2 linked regions of the Homo sapiens genome follow. Changing the gene in region 2 together with the main gene of any one other region gives a genetic interaction. Each region holds a gene or a part of one and is shown on either strand. Other genes may lie near its edges.

What was found.
Region 1: changes in PSME3IP1 (region 2) and ACACA together harm fitness less than expected from each alone (positive genetic interaction), as found in Homo sapiens cells (one large-scale study listed by BioGRID).

What each region holds. Positions count from the first base shown.
Region 1 is NC_000017.11:37,400,045-37,404,074, reverse strand, and holds part of ACACA (acetyl-CoA carboxylase 1), read left to right. Parts: intron 1-4,030. UniProt on the Homo sapiens protein: Cytosolic enzyme that catalyzes the carboxylation of acetyl-CoA to malonyl-CoA, the first and rate-limiting step of de novo fatty acid biosynthesis.
Region 2 is NC_000016.10:57,151,966-57,155,039, forward strand, and holds the end of PSME3IP1 (PSME3-interacting protein), read right to left. Parts: intron 2,543-3,074; coding exon 2,325-2,542; 3' UTR 501-2,324; downstream 1-500. UniProt on the Homo sapiens protein: Promotes the association of the proteasome activator complex subunit PSME3 with the 20S proteasome and regulates its activity.

The sequences.
Region 1 (4,030 bases), on a different chromosome or scaffold from region 2:
GGGGCCAGGCACAGTGGCTCATTCCTGTAATCCCAGCAGTTTGGGAGGCCAAGGCAGATGGATCATTTGAGGCCAGTAGTTCAAGATCAGCCTGGGCAACATGGCGAAAACCCATCTCTGCTAAAAATGCAACAATTAGCTGGGTGTGGTGGCGCATGCCTGTAATCCCAGCTTCTTGGGAGGCGCAAGAATTGCTTGAACCCTGGAGGTGGAGGTTGCAGTGAGCTGAAATCGCACCACTGCCCTCCAGCCTGTTCAACAGAGCAAGAGTCTGTCTCAAAAACAAAAAAACAAAAATCATAGCATTCAACTACCTGGAAATTACCCTCTCCCTTCAGTTGATGTTAGGCTCTACTTAGACCAATTTAGTCAGTGTGCTTAAGAAAGATGTGGAGAGGGCAGGACACGGTGCCTCACACCTGGGATCCCTGCATTTTGGGAAGCCAAGGTAGGCAGATCACTTGAGTTCAGGAGTTCAAGGAGGCATGAGAACTGGGCAACATGGTGAAACTTCGTCTCTACAAAAATTGCAAAAATTAGCCAGGTGTAGTGGCGCATGCCTGTAGTCCCAGCTACTTAGGAGGCTGAGGTGAGAGGATCACTTCAGCCCAGAGGGTTGAGGCTGCATTGACCCAGTATCACACCACTGCACTCCAGCCTAGGTGACAGAGTGAGACACTGTACCAAAAAAAAAAAAAAAAAAAAAGATGTGGCAAAATTAACATGCACAGTGAGAAGAAGGGTAACACTGATTACTGATTAAGGCAGTACTCCTCTGGGTTTTTGTCTTAAGTGGATGTGATAGTGGCATCACTTACACGACCAGCTGAAGGAAGAATAGATTTGGAGGAGAAATTGAAAGTTCTGTTTTGGATCTGTGTTTTGCATTCTGACTGGAAATGACAAATACAAGTCTACAGCTCATTGGAGGTGTCAGAACTAAAACTGTATAACTGTATTAGAATTGTTTATTTGGCTGTGTGTCTTACCTAGACAGACCTTGAGGACAGACACTGTTGTCTTTGTAACCTCAGTGCTCTGAAGTGTATCCTCAAATACTTGTGAAATGAGTAAGTAAAGGCAAAAGTAAAAATGAAGTCACTGGCTGGGTGCAGTGGCTCACGCCTGTAATCCCAGCACTTTGGGAGGCTGAGGCGGGCGGATCACGAGGTCAGGAGATCGAGACCATCCTGGCTAACATGGTGAAACCCCATCTCAACTAAAAATACAAAAAATTAGCCGGGCGTGGTGGTGGGCGCCTGTAGTCCCAGCTACTCAGGAGGCTGAGGAAGAAGAATGGCGTGAACCTGGGAGGTGGAGCTTGCAGTGAGCTGAGATCGTGCCGCTGTACTCCAGCCTGGGCAACAGAGCGAGACTCTGTCTCAAAAAAAAAAAGAATGAAGTCACTTAGGCAAAATGTAGAAGATACATACTCTATGCTTTCACTGAAAGTCTAAGCACCTGAATGTGACTTACAAGTAGGGTGACCATAATTTCTGATTTGCTGAGAATAGCCTGGTTTATATCTGTTGTCCCTACCTAAGTATTAATATTGCCTGGTTTCACTCTCAGTAAAGTCTCCATTTGTACAATAAATTTATATTGTCATTCTTTTTAGAAGGCCCTTCCAGATCTAGCATCTTCCTATATCTTTATCATCACTGCCCTATCTTAGACTCCATTTGCCAGCCAGGTGGACATACCTTCATTTCTCATATGCACTCTTAACTTCAAGGTTTTTTTTGCCAAGGTACTGCCTACCTCACTTAGACATCACTTCCTTAGGAACACTTCTCCTGACCCCCCAATGGCTGAGTTAAGTCACCCTCTTACATGTTCCCAGTACACCTTGTATTTAACCTGTCATAGCAAAGATGACTAAGTGCCTTGTTCCCTCACTAAATATCTCTGTAAAGGAACCCAAAAAAACACCTTTTGTCCTCTTTAAGCCATAAATTTATATTAATAATATCCAAATCCATGTTGAACCAGTATTTTTGAAGATTGACCTTCAGGATAAACTAATAGCACAATCTTCATGCCCTTTCATTCATAAGTAACTGAAAAGGTTGACTTTTGTACCAGGAACCCAACGAAGAAAACTTGTATCTTGTCAGGGTTGGTAACCTGGCTGCCATTGACTGAGACCAAAATATCCCAACAGTTTGTCCTCAGCTGCTAAGCTGCTGTGGTTAGAATCAAACGTAGAGTTTCTGGCCTGGTGCGGTGGCTCATGCCTGTAATCCCAACACTTTGACAGTCCTAGGTGGGAAGATTGCTTGGGCTCAGGAGTTCGAGACTAAACTGGGTGACTTAGTGAGAGTTCAACTCTACAAAAAAATCAAAAAATTAGCTGGGCATGATAGCACACGCCTGTGGTCCCAGCTACTTGGGAGGCTGAGGTAGGAGAATCACTTGAGCTCAGACAGTTGAGGCTGTAGTGACCGTGATTGTGCCACTTTACTCCAGCCTGGGCAACAGAGTGAGACCTCGTCTGGAAAAAAAAAAAAAAAGGTAAAGAGACAACCTACGGAATGGGAGAAAATATTCACGACCCCTACATCAGATAAGTGGACAAGGGCCTGAAAAGACATTGCTCAAAAGAAGACATGCAAGTAGCATGGGAGGCCGAGGCGGGTGGATCACCTGAGGTCAGGAGTTCGAGACCAGCCGGGCCAACCTGGTGAAACCCTGTCTCTACTAAAAAAACAAAAATTAGCTGGGCGTGGTGGCGGGCGCTTGTATTCCCAGCTACTCAGGAGGCTGAGGCAGGAGAATCACTTGAACCCAGGAGGCGGAGGTTGCAGTGAGCCAAGATCACACCATTGCCCTCCAGCCTGGGCAACAGCAAGACTCTGTCTCAAAAAAAAAAAAAAAAGAAAAACAAAAGAAAAAGACATGCAAATAGCTAACTGGTATGTGAAAAAAATGTTCAACATCACTAATCATCAGGGAAATGTGAATTAAAACTACCATGAGATATCACCTCACACCTGTCAGAATGATTATTATCAAAAAGCGAGATAAGCATTGGCAAGGATGTGGAGAAAAACCCTGTACACTGTCAGTGGGAATGTAAATTAGTACAGCCATTTTGGAAAATAGTATGGAGGTTCCTTAAAAATTTTTGAATGGAACTACCATATGATCCAATAATCCACTTCTGGGTATATATCCAAAGGAAATGATATCTGCATGTCAAGGTATCTGTACTCCCATATCCATTGCAGCATTATTCACCATAGCCAAGACATGGAAACAGCCTACATGTATGCCAATGGATGAATGAATAAAGAAAATGTGAGATATAGATACACACACACACACACACACAGACACACACACAATGGAATACTGTTCAGCCTTAAAAAATAAGGAAATCCTGTCATTTGCAGCAACATAGATGGACCTGGAGGACATTATGCTAAGTGAAATAAGCCAGGCACAGAAAAACAAATACTGCTTAATCTCACTTATGTGTGGCATCTAAAAAAGTCAAGCTTGTAGAAGTAGCAGAATGGTGGTTACCAGGGGATGAGAGAGAAAGAATTGGAAGATTTTGGCCAAAGGATACAAAATTTCAGTTAGACAGCAGGAATAAGTGCAGGAGATCTATTATACTATATGGTGACTATAGTTAAAAATATATACTTGAGGCCAGGCACTGTGGCTCACACCTGTAATCCCAGCACTTTGGGAGGCTGAGGCAGGTGGGTCATCTGAGGTCAGGGGTTTGAGACCAGCCTGGCCCACATGGTGAAACCCCATCTCTACTAAAAATACAAAAATTAGCCAGGCGTGGTGGTGCATGCCTGTAATCCCAACTACTCAGGAGGCTGAGGCATGAGAATCACTTGAACCCGGGAGGCAGAGGTTGCAGTGAGCCAAGATTGCATCACTGCACTCCAGCCTGGGCAACAGAGCAAGACCCTGTCTCAAAAACAAAAACAAACAAACAAACAAAAATATATATATGCTTGAAAATTGCTAAGAGAGTAGATTTTAGTTGTTCTTACCACACAAAAAAATA
Region 2 (3,074 bases):
TCCTATTAGCTTTCTCCCTCACATGGCTGGAGAATTGTAAGAATCCTACCACTCAGAACAAAGTAAGCGAGCTTAAAGAAACCCATGCCAAACTTTGTTTTTGTCCCGTAATTACCATAAAATCCCAATTATTAAGGCAGGAGTACTACACTTTACAGTTTAAAGCAGTGTTTCCTTCCAGCCCTGTTTATTCTATTCTCCTTTGGGTTTGAACTTCAAGGTCTACACTAGATACTTTCCAAGGCTGCTTCCTCTGTTGGTCAGATCAGACGCTGCTTTGTTAGCTGTGGTTGCTACAGAAGCTCTGTTTCAGTTCCAGAGCTCTGTGCTGATGGGGACAATGGAATATGATGCAATGATCACCAGTGATTCTCAGTCTCTCCTGAGACACCAGAAGGTAAGTCACAGTCTGAAGAGTCTCACTCAACCTTCTCAACACAATCTAGCTGAGAGACATGGGGAGAGGTGGAAGCACAATATTCAGTAGAGGAAAAACAAGATCTTGTTCTCTGACAGGTTTATTAGCTTTCATGTTAATGGATGTTTTTAAACCCTGCAACCCTCTGTCAACTTCTTTCCACATCAAGAGGCCATGAGATACAGTAATGGCCTCTTAAGAGTCATGCCACATAAAGATGATGACTTTGATGTCCTGGCCTGCCTCCTGTAACAATGTGAGGCTGTTTTGGGTACATGCTGTAATAACAACAGGACTATCACAGGAACAATGAAGCAGAGAAGCAGAAGGTGCCTACAAAGTTTTACCTAAATGTCTTGTTTGTCAGGATGGAGCTGATGCGCCCATACTGGCAGAACAATTAGCACAGAGTAGTTCTGAAAAGGAGGAAGAATTCACAAAGCATCAGTTATGGGTGCAGGGAAGTCGCCATCTGCCAATGGGCACCAGAGTGTCACTGTACTGGAAGGGGAAAAGGAGTGGGCTGGATGAGATCCAGGGGCCTCTCTGCCCATGTTCAAAGTCAGTAGCTGCTCTGCCTGCCGGCATCACAGTGTCAACACATTTTGTGTGTGTCTCACTCAGTCTCACACCCAAGAAAGTAAAAACAATTGATGTAGGAATAAGGGGAATGGATAAAGAATGGTACATGCTTATTCTAAAGCAGGAGAGCCTACAGATTGTTGTCAAAGCTCATGTCTATCTCTGTCCTCGAGGCCTCCACACCATCTCCCTCTCCCTCCTCCAGAATCCAAGGGATGAGCCCGTTTCCCTTTATGAGACGAGGTGGAGCAGTACCTCTAGTTTTTGGCTGCTCATGGCCTCAGAGTTGCTGTTTGGAAAGGAAAAAGAGCAGCAGAGGCAGCAAAGAAAAGTACTAGGGCAGCACCTTTAGGTTAGAAATAGATTCCACAGTTAAAAGCACAAGTATAATATGCATTAAACAGAGAAGGGCCTCAATAGAATGGTCACAATATGCAAGTGTGTCCCACTCATTTACAATATTAGGATTCCAGGAGCTGCCAGAAATAAGTCATCTCATTAACATACCTACCTGCAGTTCTGATGTCTGGCTATTAGTAAACAAGGCCTACGTTTGTTTCTCTAAAATTTAGAATCTTAAACTAAATCCTTTATTTCAAAAACAAACATAAAATAATTTCCCAGGCAGAGAAAAGGTTTGAGATGGAAGCGTTCTTGTTAGCAGTCCCTTCCTGCATAAATGGGGTTGGAGAGAGAGGAGAGAGGGAATGGCCAAGGGTATGGAAAGCTTTCACAATGCATGCCGAGTGTGAAGTGACACCCCCAGCAGATGGGGTTTATCATCTTTACTTAGTCACACAACATCAAGGACTGGTTAGTTCCAGGGAAGGGCTCCATTTCACTACCTGGGTCAGTTCTCTTCCCCCGCATGCTCCACAATGCAGTAGAACCAAACAACACATTCATTTACAATAGAATGTTTAAATAACACCTGTCCAATAACTGCCCTTACTTCTTTGTGCTGTCGGGAAAAGAAAAAACAGAAAGCAATAAAACCCAAACCCTTTGGCAAGCCAGCCGGTGCCTATTCTCCTGGGGCATTTTTAGTGGAACTTCGGCTGGGCCTTGCCCTCCTCCCAATATCAGTGAGGAAAGTGGCAGCGGGACAGGTTTGGTCATCTGCAGTGGAGTAGAAAGAGGAACCAAACACGATTCGGGCCACAGGTGGATTCTGGCACATTTTTAGATTGGATTGGTTAAAAATGTCATGTTGTACACAGGATGCAGGCAAAGGAGTTTTTTTTTGAGGGACATAATGCCTATAGGCAGCATGAACGGTCCGATCTACCCTTGGGGAGGAGCTCCCTGTGTAGGGACGGAGAAACTAGGGGGCCTCGAGGAAGGTGTTGGTTCGGAAGATGGAGGAGACAATCTTTCCGGTGGCATTGATGGTGCCTTCGCTGTCTGAGCTGGACTCGGAGTCGCTGCTCCCAGAGTAGGCACCCAGGCCTGGGAGGATGCCGATACATACTGCAGCAGAGGGGCAGTGGATGGAGGGGCCACTCAGGGAGGTGTTTCCGAGAGACTTGCAGGATGAGGGCTCTGCAATAAAAGGGGAAAGACTGTCACTTCATCACCCTTTTCCAAAGTTGGGGACTGACTTACCATGTGCCAGGCACTGTACCAAGGGATTTTCCCACAGAGGAGCCTTAGAACAATGCTATGCAGCCAATACTATCATCACCCTCGTTTTAGAGATGGGGAAACTGAAGGAGGAAGGGAGGCTCCAGGAGGTGAAAGGACTTCTGAAAGTAAAGGGGCAGAGCTGAGACTTGAATCAAGGTCTTTTTAACCCCAGAGCCTGACTACACTCTCTTGTTCCCCATCAAATCCGAGTTGGAGAACAAGCTACTCTGGAGTGTAGCCTAGAGTGCTTTGATTTCCCTGTGCTCACACAGCCGTGAGAATCTGAAAACAGATTAAGAGAGACACTGTGAGCAATATTAACAATTCCATTAAGTTCTCAGCGTATTACACCATTTCTTATTTACTGACCAATAAGCCAGCTAGCACAGATACAATTTTAAGGCCAAACATCAGCTACAAAATAACATTCTTTTCTTTTTAAACATTT